Linked DNA regions of Homo sapiens: region 1 is linked to region 2. The links come from fine-mapping of genetic effects on gene expression. Tissue or cell type: whole blood. Region 2 holds a variant in brackets; the other region holds the start of a gene. All regions are shown on one strand. Distances are from middle to middle.

Region 1 (5,147 bases), 76 kb before region 2:
GAGGCCGAGTTGGGCGGATCACGAGGTCAGGAGATCGACACCATCCTGGCTAACGCGGTGAAACCTAAAAATACAAAAAAATTAGCCGGGCGTAGTGGCGGGTGCCTGTAGTCCCAGCTACTCAGGAGGCTGAGGCAGGAGAATGGTGTGAACCCGGAGGCGGAGCTTGCAGTGAGCCGGGAGATTGTGCCACTGCACTCCAGCCTGGGCGACACAGCAAGACTCTGTCTCCAAAAAAAAAAAAAAAAAATCCTTCAACAATCTTATGTTGTTACTGACATTTTACAGATGAGGTAGGTAGACAGATGAAAACACAGTCCTTGGTTACAGGGACTCAGTCTGAACCTTGTCATGCTCTCAACCATCAGTGTAAGAGGGGGCAAGGCTGACAGCATATACCTCCAGGAAGCGAGAATGCAGAGTTTCCTCTGTGATATCAAGCACTTCAGGGTTGTAGATGCTGCCATTGTCGAACACCTGCTGGATGACCAGCCCAAAGGAGAAGGGGGAGATGTTGAGCATGTTCAGCAGCGTGGCTTCGCTGGCTCCCACTTTGTCTCCAGTCTTGATCAGCTGCACATCACTCTGAACCAGATAATAGTGGGGCAGTAAACACCTGTTGGACAACCAGCAGATCCATGGCCACTAAAAGCAGCTCCCCATTTGCCTGGTTAGCACAGGCAAACCAGGTCCACTCACCAGGATTTCAATGGTGCCCCTGGAGATTTTAGTGGTGATACCTAAAGCCTGGAAAAAGGAGGTCTTCTCGGGCCCGAGACCAGTGTTCTGGGCTGGCACAGTGACTTCACATGGGGCAATGGCACCAGCACGGGCAGCAGCTGGCACCTGACAAAGACAACAAACAGTGAGAAAAGCCTCTCCACTCACACAACCTGAGAATGGTCCATTTTGCTTTAAGGAGCAACAACAAAGTCTCTTTAGCCAACCCAATTGTCCCCTTACCTTATTGGCCAGCAACATGTCCCTGATCTCAGTGAGGTCCTCCTTGGTGAACACAAAGCCCACATTCCCCCGGATATGAGGCAGCAGTCTGCAAAGAGAAGTTTATGGGAGACAATCACCTTTCAGCACCATTCTCCAGGAAGAGGGAGACGGGCACTGGGGAGAAAGGACAAAACTGCCAGGGGAACTGACTTCTCCAGAGCTGGGTTGTTTTCCAGGTGCCCTCGGATGGCCTTGCGCATCATGGTGTTCTTGCCCATCAGCACCACAGCCTTCCCGCGAAGGGACATGCGGATCTGCTGCATCTGCTTGGAGCCCACATTGTCTGCTCCCACAATGAAACATTTCGGATAATCATCCAATAGTTGCTACAAAAAACAAGCCAGAGGAGCCAAGTTTAACAGGAAGAGAGAGGGAAAAAATGCCAGAAGAAACTGAACCCCACAATTTGTTTCCATCCCACTCCCTTTCTTCTAAGCTTTTGAAGTCAGAGGGAGATTGGGAGCTACGTTGTAACACTGCCAAACTGGATGATTGGCTAGCTGGGTATGAACGCTGAAAATTAGGTTTCTACATTCAATCAAGGAGTTTTTTCTTTTTTTACTTAGTTTTTAATTTTTCCCAATTACCAGGCATGCTTCTGATTCACTAAAATGGTTAACAGGATAAAAAAGGAATGTTCCAAGTAAGTTGGTCAAGAGGAGGGCTAGATTCACAGCATTAAAAGCACCACGTTAAGCAAATATAGCAACATTATTATTTGTAAAAACAATCTAGGCGTGTTTATCCGGATTGTTACACAATTCCTTTGGGTTTTGTGTCTGAAAACCTTCTAAGTGTGGGAAAATGTAATACAAGCTATGCTCTACAATGCTGCCTAATTGCTTAAGCGCAGTACAGTCAGCATTTCTGGGCAAGGGAGACCCACCTCAAAGGCCATCCAAAAGTCATTGGACACTTAAGTTTCTTGGCTGACAGGTCCTAAATATGCAACAGCTTGCTTCCTTACAATGAGTCATTCCTGACCTCAGACCTTCTCAAAAATGGAGTAAAACTGTAATGTGCGGCCGGGCGCGGTGGCTCACACCTGTAATCCTAGCACTTAGGGAGGCCGAGGAAGGTGGATCATGAAGTCAAGAGATCGAGACCATCCTGGCCAACATGGTGAATCCCTGTCTCTATTGAAAATACAAAAATTAGCTGGGTGTGGTGTCGCGCCCCTGTAATCCCAGCTACTCGGGAGGCTGAAGCAGGAGAATCGCTTGAACCTGGGAAGCGGAGGTTGCAGTAAGCCAAGATCAAGCCACTGCACTCCAGCCTGGACAACAGAGCGAGACTCCGTTTAAAAAAAAAAAAGTATAAAGCGCGCTCTTTTAGAAGCCAGACAGACCTGGATACGAATGCTGTCATCTTAGGACCCACTTAACTTGCCTGAGCCCGTTTATCTGCAACAGAAGGGACCTATCTCAGGAAATTGTTAACTAAACAGTATTTTCCCAAAAATGGCCTAATTCAGTAGCCGGTGTGAGTAGACCCTCAGCACATAGCAGCTGACTGTCCCTATTTGCGCTGGGGCAACATGAAGAGCAGAGGCGACCCACCCTGCACTTACGATGATCTTAAGGAAGTAGTTGGACTTCCAGGTCGCCCTGTCTTCCCTGGGCATCACGGCGGTGCGTCAGGGATTGCCACGCAGGGTTTAAAGACGATGTCACTGAGGAGAGACAGGGAGCTCAGGCCTGGTCACGCCGACACCCATCCCGCGGTCCCGGGCCTAAGAGGAGCAGGACACGCGCAATCGCCCGCCGGCCCTGCCTAGGGCAGCGGCCGTCATCTCGGGGCGTGCAAGCCGCCACCGAGGCCCCAGGCGGAACAGAATAGGACTCCATGTTCCCAAAGGCCCCCAAAGACCCCTCCATGCTTCCCGCCGGCGACCCCTGGCGCCCATCTAACTAGCACACGAACCTTCCACGAGGACGCCTGGCGAGAGAAGGGCCTCGCGCCCGCGCGTGCCTTTTATAATGCGAACAAAGTAGCCAATCAGAAACCGCGGATAGCGCTCCTGTCTATTGGCTGCGCCATCGCCCGTCAGACAAAGCTGAACGAATACAGGCAACCATTGGATAATATCGCTGCCACTCCAGCCAACGGAAAGCCGCCTTTAAGTAGGGTCGCGAAGGAAGGCGCTGCCTCGCGTTGGAGGAGCTTGCTCTGAGCTGCTGCCACCTGCTGGGCTGGAGCTGGAGCTGGAGCTGCGAATTCGGAGTCCCGGTTCCCTGTGCCACCTGGCGAGCTCAGCAAACTAAAAGGTATGACGTGGAGCTGAGACATAATTGCACATGCTTAGAAACAGAATGGTTTCTCTTTTTTTTTTTTTTTTTGAGACGGAGTGTCGCTCTGTCGCCCAGGCTGGAGCGCAGTGGCGCCATCTCGGCTGACTGCAAGCTCCGCCTCCCGGGTTCACGCCATTCTCCTGCCTCAGCCTCCGGAGTAGCTGGGACTACAGGCGCCCGCCACCGTGCTCGGCTAATTTTTTTTTTGTATTTTTAGTAGAGACGGGGTTTCATCATGTTCTCCAGGATGGTCTCGATCTCCTGACCTCGTGATCTGCCCGCCTCGGCCTCCCAAAGTGCTGGGATTACAGGCGTGACCCGCCGCGCCCGGCCTCAGAATGGTCTCTCGTCTTCTCTAGTTTTTCCGCCTACCAAAACAGAGGGATCCTTTAAAACCTGGCCGGGCGCGGTGGCTCACGCCTATACTCCCAGCACTTCGGGAGGACGAGGCGGGTGGATCACCTGAGGTCAGGAGTTCGAGACTAGCCTGGCCAACATGGCAAAACCCCGTCTCTACTAAAAATACAAAAATTAGCCAGGTGGGGTGGCGCATGCCCGTAATCCCAGCTACTCAGGAGGCCGAGGCAGAAGAATCGCTTGAACCCGGGAGCTGTGAGCTCTGCAGTGAGCTAAGATCACACCATTGCACTCTAGCCTGGGTGACAGAGAGGGACTCCATCTCAAAAAAAAAAAAAAAAAAAAAAAAACCTAAGTCAGCTCATCTCCTTATCTGCTTAAAACTTTCCGTTTCCTACAGAGTAAAAATCTAAAACCTAAAGTACCTACAAGGCCCTTACCTATCTGTCCCTCACGCCCACTCTGATCATCTCAGATGTTTTCCTCCTCACTTACTTGCTTTCTACCCAGATGATGCTCTGCTGCTTTTCCAGAGCAGGCTTTACTTGGGGGCTTTTGCATTAGCCATTCCCTCTTCCTAGAAAACTAGCCAACAAACATCCATAGAATAATTCACCTCCATCAAATCTTTTTTTTTTTTTTTTTTTTTTTTTTTTTTTTTTGAGAAGCAGTCTCACTCCGTTGCCCAGGCTAGAGTGTAGTGGAGCAATCTCAGTTCATTGCAGACTTGACCTCCCAGGCTGAAGTGATCCTCCCACCTCAGCCTCCCAAGTAGCTAGGACTACAGGCACACACCACCACGCCAAGCTAATTTTTTGTACTTTTTGTATAGATGGGGTCTTGCCATGTTGCCTAGGCTGATGTCAAACTTCTGGGCTCAAGCAATCCTCCCACCCTGGCCTCCTAAATTGCTGGGATTACAAGAATGAGACACCTTGCCCAACCCTGAGATCTCTTTTTTTTTTTTTTTTTCACTGAAACCTATGGAATTATGTATTAAATGATCCCCAAAGAATCAGCTATTTCAAAATTAAAAATTATTACAAAGAGCTTCATACATCATGTTATATCCTATATCACACACCATAAAACTGTCAGAAGTAGGCCGGGTGCGGGGGCTCATGCCTGTAATCCCAGCACTTTGGGAGGCTGAGGTGGGCAGATCACGAGGTCAGGAGATCCAGACCATCCTGGCTAACACAGTGAAACCCCGTCTCTACTAAAAAATACCAAAAGTTAGCCAGGAGTGGTGGCGGGCTCCTGTAATTCCAGCTACTTGGGAGGCTGAGGCAGGAGAATTGCTTGAGCCCAGGAGGCAGAGGTTGCAGTGAGCTGAGATTGCGCCACTGTACTCCAGCCTAGGTGACAGAGCAAGATTCCGTCTCAAAAAAAAAAAAAAAAGTTAGAAGTAGCTCGATTTCACGTTACTGTATTTCTTTTTCTTTTCTTTTTTCTTTTCTTTTCTTTTTTTTTTTTTTTTTTTGAGACAGAATT
Region 2 (5,147 bases):
TAGGCTCAATCAGTCCTCCAGTCTTGGCCTCCCAAAGAGGTAGAATTACAAGCATGAGCCACTGTGGCCAGTCCAGTGTGATCATCTTTTCATGGCATTTAACATTCTTCTGAAACATCAATTCCTTGGGTAAAACAGCATTGCATCATATAATTGTACCAGGATTTACTTAGCCAATCTCCTGATAAAATTTAGTTAGTTACAAATTTTCACTATAATCAGCAATGCTAGGACAACATCCTTATAGTTAAATCTCGGAACACTTCCTTAATGATTTCCTGCAGATCAGTTCTTAAGGAGTGGAAGTGTGAGGTTAAGTGTCGCGTTAGTCCGTTTACTATGTGTTGACAAAGTGTGGTCTATAACTGCTGTATCTAGATAAATATATCATGTATATTTCATGAGTACTGAGTTGACATGCAACACTGTAGGGTGGTCCCAGGCATAATTCTCCCAAATGTAGTGTGACTAACTGCCACTGGTGGAATGAGAGGTTGTAGCTAGTACAAAGATTTATTATTTTATTTGTATTTTTTGCAGACACAGAGAGGTCTCACTTTGTTGCCCAACTGGTCTCAAACTCCTGGGCTCAAGGAATCCTCCCACCTCGACCTCCCAAAGTGCTGGGATTACACACATGAGCCACCATGCCCAGCTCAGTTTTTTTTTTTTCTTCTTTTCAAGACAGAGTCTCGCTCTGTCGCCCAGGCTAGAGTGCAGTGGCGCGATCTCGGCTCACCGCAAGCTCCACCCCCCGGGTTCACGCCATTCTCCTGTCTCAGCCTCCCGAGTAGCTGGGACTACAGGCGCCTGCCACCACGCCTGGCTAATTTTTTGTATTTTCAGTAGAGACGGGGTTTCACCGTGTTAGCCAGTATGGTCTCGATCTCCTGACCTCGTGATCTGCCCGCCTCGGCCTCCCAAAGTGCTAGGATTACAGGCGTGAGCCACCGCGCCCGGCCAGATTCCTTATTTTAATAGTTACATATTTATGTGTTAGAAAATTATCTAATTAGCACATAAAACCTGTGATGGCTCCAATATTATTTATTTATTTATTTTATTTATTTTAATTTTTGAGACGGAATCTCGCTTTGTCACCAGGCTGGAGTGCGGTGGCACAATCTTGGCTTACTGCAACCTCCGCCTCCCGGGTTCAAGTGATTCTCCTGCCTCAGCCTCCCGAGTAGCTGCGACTACAGGCACCCACCACCATGCCTGGCTAGCTTTTGTATTTTTAGTAGAGATGGGGTTTCACCATGTTGGCCAGGATGGTCTCGATCTCTTGACTTCATAATCCACCTCCCTCGGCTTCCCAATGTGCTGGGATTACAGGCATGAGCCACCGCGCCTGGCCCAGCTCCAATATTATTGTTTAGGATAAAGATAAGGTTTTTTTGTTTGTTTGTTTGTTTTAAAGTGGGTCCACTTAAAGAAAACTATGTAGGGACGGGCACAGTGGCTCACGCCCATAATCCCAGCATTGTGAGAGTCTGAGGGCTGAGGAGGGTGGATCACCTGCGGTCAGGAGTTCAAGACCAGCCTAGCCAACATGGCAAAACGCCATCTCTATTAAAAATACAAAAATTAGCCAGTGTGGTGGTGCAGGCCCCGTAGTCCCAGCTACTTAGGAGGCTGACGTGGGAGGATCACTTGAGCCTGGGAGGCGGATGTTGCAGTGAACCGAGATTATGCCACTGCACTCCAGCCTGGGCGACACAGCAAGACTTCATCTCAAAAAAAAAAAAGAAGATTTGAGCTAGAATTCCAGTTTTCCTCAGTTCCCATTTGGGGATCCTGGGAGAGTCTCTCAGCCTCAGTTTTCTCATCTGTGAGATGGGGATATTGAGAATTCTTCTCCATATGGCATGCCTGCCTGGAAGGGCTTATAAACAAAGAATTGTGTCTGGGCATGGTGGTTCATGCCTATAATCCCAATACTTAGGGAAGCCGAGGTGGGCAGATCACTTGAGGTCAGGAGTTCGAGACCAGCCTGGCCATCATGGTGAAACCCCGTCCCTACTAAAAACACAAAAATTAACTGGGTGTGGTGGCGTGCACCTGTAATTCCAGCTACTTGGGAGGCTGAGGCAGGTAGAATCACTTGAACTCAGGAGACAGAGGTTGCAGTAAGCTGAGACTGGGCCACTGCACTCCAGCCTGGGCAACAGAGTGAGACTCCCATCTCAAAAAAAAAAAAAAAAAAAAAAAAGTTAAAGAAAACAAAGAATTATAAGGTCAAAAAGGATCTCAAGAGATTCTTCAACCTTTTCTCAGGTGAAGGGGGCTGGATTTCCACCTTCATCCTCCTCTCTATCACCTAAGGACCCCATATGTTGACCGGGTGTCCACCTGGAAGTCATCCTCTGTTCCTCCCCGTCCTCGCTTTCCACACCCAGTTCTGCCTGTCCATCTGCAAAGTGTAGCCCAATTCCCACCCCCACCCCCTCATTTTCACCTCTGCAATTATATCTCTAGGTGCAGCCACGCACTACCCTCTCTTGCCTGGGATTACTGCATGAACCTCCAAACTGGACCTCTATTGTCAATTTTCTACCCAGAAGCCAATAAGCCAATGTTATCTTTTTAAAAAA[A/T]TTTTTTTGAGATGGAGTCTTGCTGTATCACCCAGGCTGGAATGCAATGGCGCAATCTTGACTCACTGCAACCATCACCTCCCAGGTTCAAGCCATTCTCCTGCTTCAGCCTCCCAAGTAGCTGGGACTACAGGCACGCTATCACGCCCGGCTAATTTTTCTTATTTTTAGTAGAGACAGGGTTTTGCCATGTTGCCCAGGCTGGTTCTGAACTCCTAACCTTGGGTGATCCACCCCCCTCGGCCTCCCAAAGTGCTGGGATTACAGGCGTGAGCCACGGCACCAGCCTAATGTTATTTTATTTTATTTTATTTATTTATTTATTTCGAGACGGAGTCTCACTCTGTCGTCCAGGCTGGAGTGCAGTGGTATGATCTCGGCTCACTGCAACCTCCGCCTCCCAGGTTCAAGTGATTCTCCTGCCTCAGCCTACTGGGTAGCTGTGATTACAGTCACACGACACAACACCTGGATAATTTTTTGTATTTTTAGTAGAGACAGTGTCTCACCATGTTGGCCAGTCTGGTCTTGAACTCCTGACCTCTGGAGATCCGCCCCCCTCGGCCTCCCAAAGTGCTGGGATTACAGGCGTGAGTACCCGGCAATGTTATGGTTTTTTTGTTTTTTTTTTTTAGTATTTATTGATCATTCTTGGGTGTTTCCCAGAGAGGGGGAAGTGGCAGGGTCATAGGATAATAGTGGAGAGAAGGTCAGCAGATAAACACGTGAACAAAGGTCTCTGGTTTTCCTAGGCAGAGGTCCCTGCGGCCTTCGGCCTTCAGCAGTGTTTGTGTCCCTGGGTACTTGAGATTAGGGAGTGGTGATGACTCTTAAGGAGCATGCTGCCTTCAAGCATCTGTTTAACAAAGCACATCTTGCACCGCCCTTAATGCATTTAACCCTGAGTTGACACAGCACATGTTTCAGAGAGTACGGGGTTGGGGGTAAGGTTATAGATTAACAGCATCCCAAGGCAGAAGAATTTTTCTTAGTACAGAACAAAATGGTGTCTCCTATGTCTGCTTCTTTCTACACAGACACAGTAACAATCTGATCTCTCTTTCTTTTCCCCACATTTCCCCCTTTTCTTTTCGACAAAACCGCCATCGTCATCATGGCCCTTTCTCGATGGTCGCTGTCTCTTCGGAGCTGTTGGGTACACTTCCCAGGCGGGGCGGCCTGGCAGAGGCGCTCCTCACCTCCCAGAAGGGGTGGTGGCTGGGCAGAGGCGCCCCTCACATCCCAGACGATGGGCAGCCGGGCAGAGGCGCCCCCCACCTCCCTGATGGGGCAGCCGGGCAGAAACGCCCCCCACCTCCCAGACGGGGTGTCCGGGCAGAGGCGCCCCCCACCTCCCAGATGAAGGGCGGCCAGGCAGAGGTGCTCCCCACCTCCCAGACGGGGGAGCCGGGCAGAGACGCCCCTCACCTCCCAGACGGGGTGGCTGGGCAGAGGCGCCCACTTCACAGACGGGGCGGCCGGGTAGAGGCACTCCTCCCAGATGGGGTGGCGGCCGGGCAGAGGTGCTCCTCACATCCCAGACAGGGTGGCGGCCAGGCAGAGGCGCTCCTCACCTCCCAGACGGGGTGGTGGCCGGGCAGAAGCGCTCCTCACCTCCCAGACGGGGTGGCGGCAGGGCAGAGGCGCTCCTCGCCTCCCAGACAGGGTGGCAGCCGGGCAGAGGGGCTCCTCGCTTCCCAGACGGGGCGGCCAGGCAGAGGTGCTCCTCGCTTCCCAGACGGGGCGGCCGGGCAGAGGCTGTAATCTTAGCACTTTGGGAGGCCAAGGCAGGCGGCTGGAAGGTGGAGGTTGCAGCGAGCCGAGATCACGCCACTGCATTCCAGCCTGGGCAACACTGAGCACTGAGTGACCGAGACTCCGTCTGCAATCCCAGTACCCCAGGAGGCCGAGGCGGGCAGACCACTCGAGGTCAGGAGCCAGAGACCAGCCCAGTCAACAGGGCGAAACCGTGTCTCCTCCAAATATACAAAAACCAGTCAGGCGTGGCGGCGCGTGCCCGCAATCCCAGGCACTCGGCAGGCCAAGGCAGGAGAACCAGGGGAGCCCGGGGCAGGGAGGCTGCAGCGAGCCGAGACCACGGCAGTACAGTCCAGCCTTGGCAACAGAAGGAGACCGAAGAAAGAAAGAGGGAGCGGGTGAGGGGGAGGGGGAGGGGGATGGGGGAGGGGGAGGGAGCTGTTATGTTTTTTTTTTAAAAATCAACTTTATTGGGCTAAGTGCAGTGGCTCATGCCTGTAATCCTAGCACTTTGGGATCTTGACATAGCTGATCTCAGATCTTGGCATAGCTGTTCACGTGCCACCTCTGTGGGTCCTGAACATTTTATCTAAAGTCTCCCCGTACCCCACCAAATCAGACTCCTTACCCTGGTATTTGTTGAGGTTCACCTTCTGCCATTATATTCTGCGTTTATTTGTGTACTTGTTTATTATTTGTCTCTGCCTCCCCCATTAAAATGTCAGGGCTATGAGAACAGGGACTATGTCTGTCTTGTTTGCTGCTTGTTCACCAGCATCTGGAATGGTAGGTTTG

What was found. PIP is the estimated chance that this variant, and not a neighbour inherited with it, causes the effect.
Region 1: RPLP0 starts here. The variant in region 2 is fine-mapped to the expression of RPLP0 in whole blood (TOPMed, PIP above 0.99).

What each region holds. Positions count from the first base shown.
Region 1 is chr12:120,198,155-120,203,301 of GRCh38, forward strand. It overlaps RPLP0 (ribosomal protein lateral stalk subunit P0), which reads right to left and starts at 2,957. Exons shown (of 8, transcript NM_001002.4): 1 at 2,929-2,957; 2 at 2,576-2,677; 3 at 1,156-1,331; 4 at 964-1,051; 5 at 700-846; 6 at 400-585. The coding sequence starts at 2,629. PXN-AS1 (PXN antisense RNA 1) reads left to right here and starts at 3,137. Exons shown (of 4, transcript NR_038924.1): 1 at 3,137-3,272. RefSeq lists enhancers at 42-541, 661-1,602, 2,643-2,712, 3,113-3,472.
Region 2 is chr12:120,274,276-120,279,422 of GRCh38, forward strand. No RefSeq gene overlaps it. Among named protein-coding and RNA genes, the nearest start is that of PXN, 11 kb to the left of the region's middle. The variant A/T (reference allele first, on the strand shown) is at 2,595.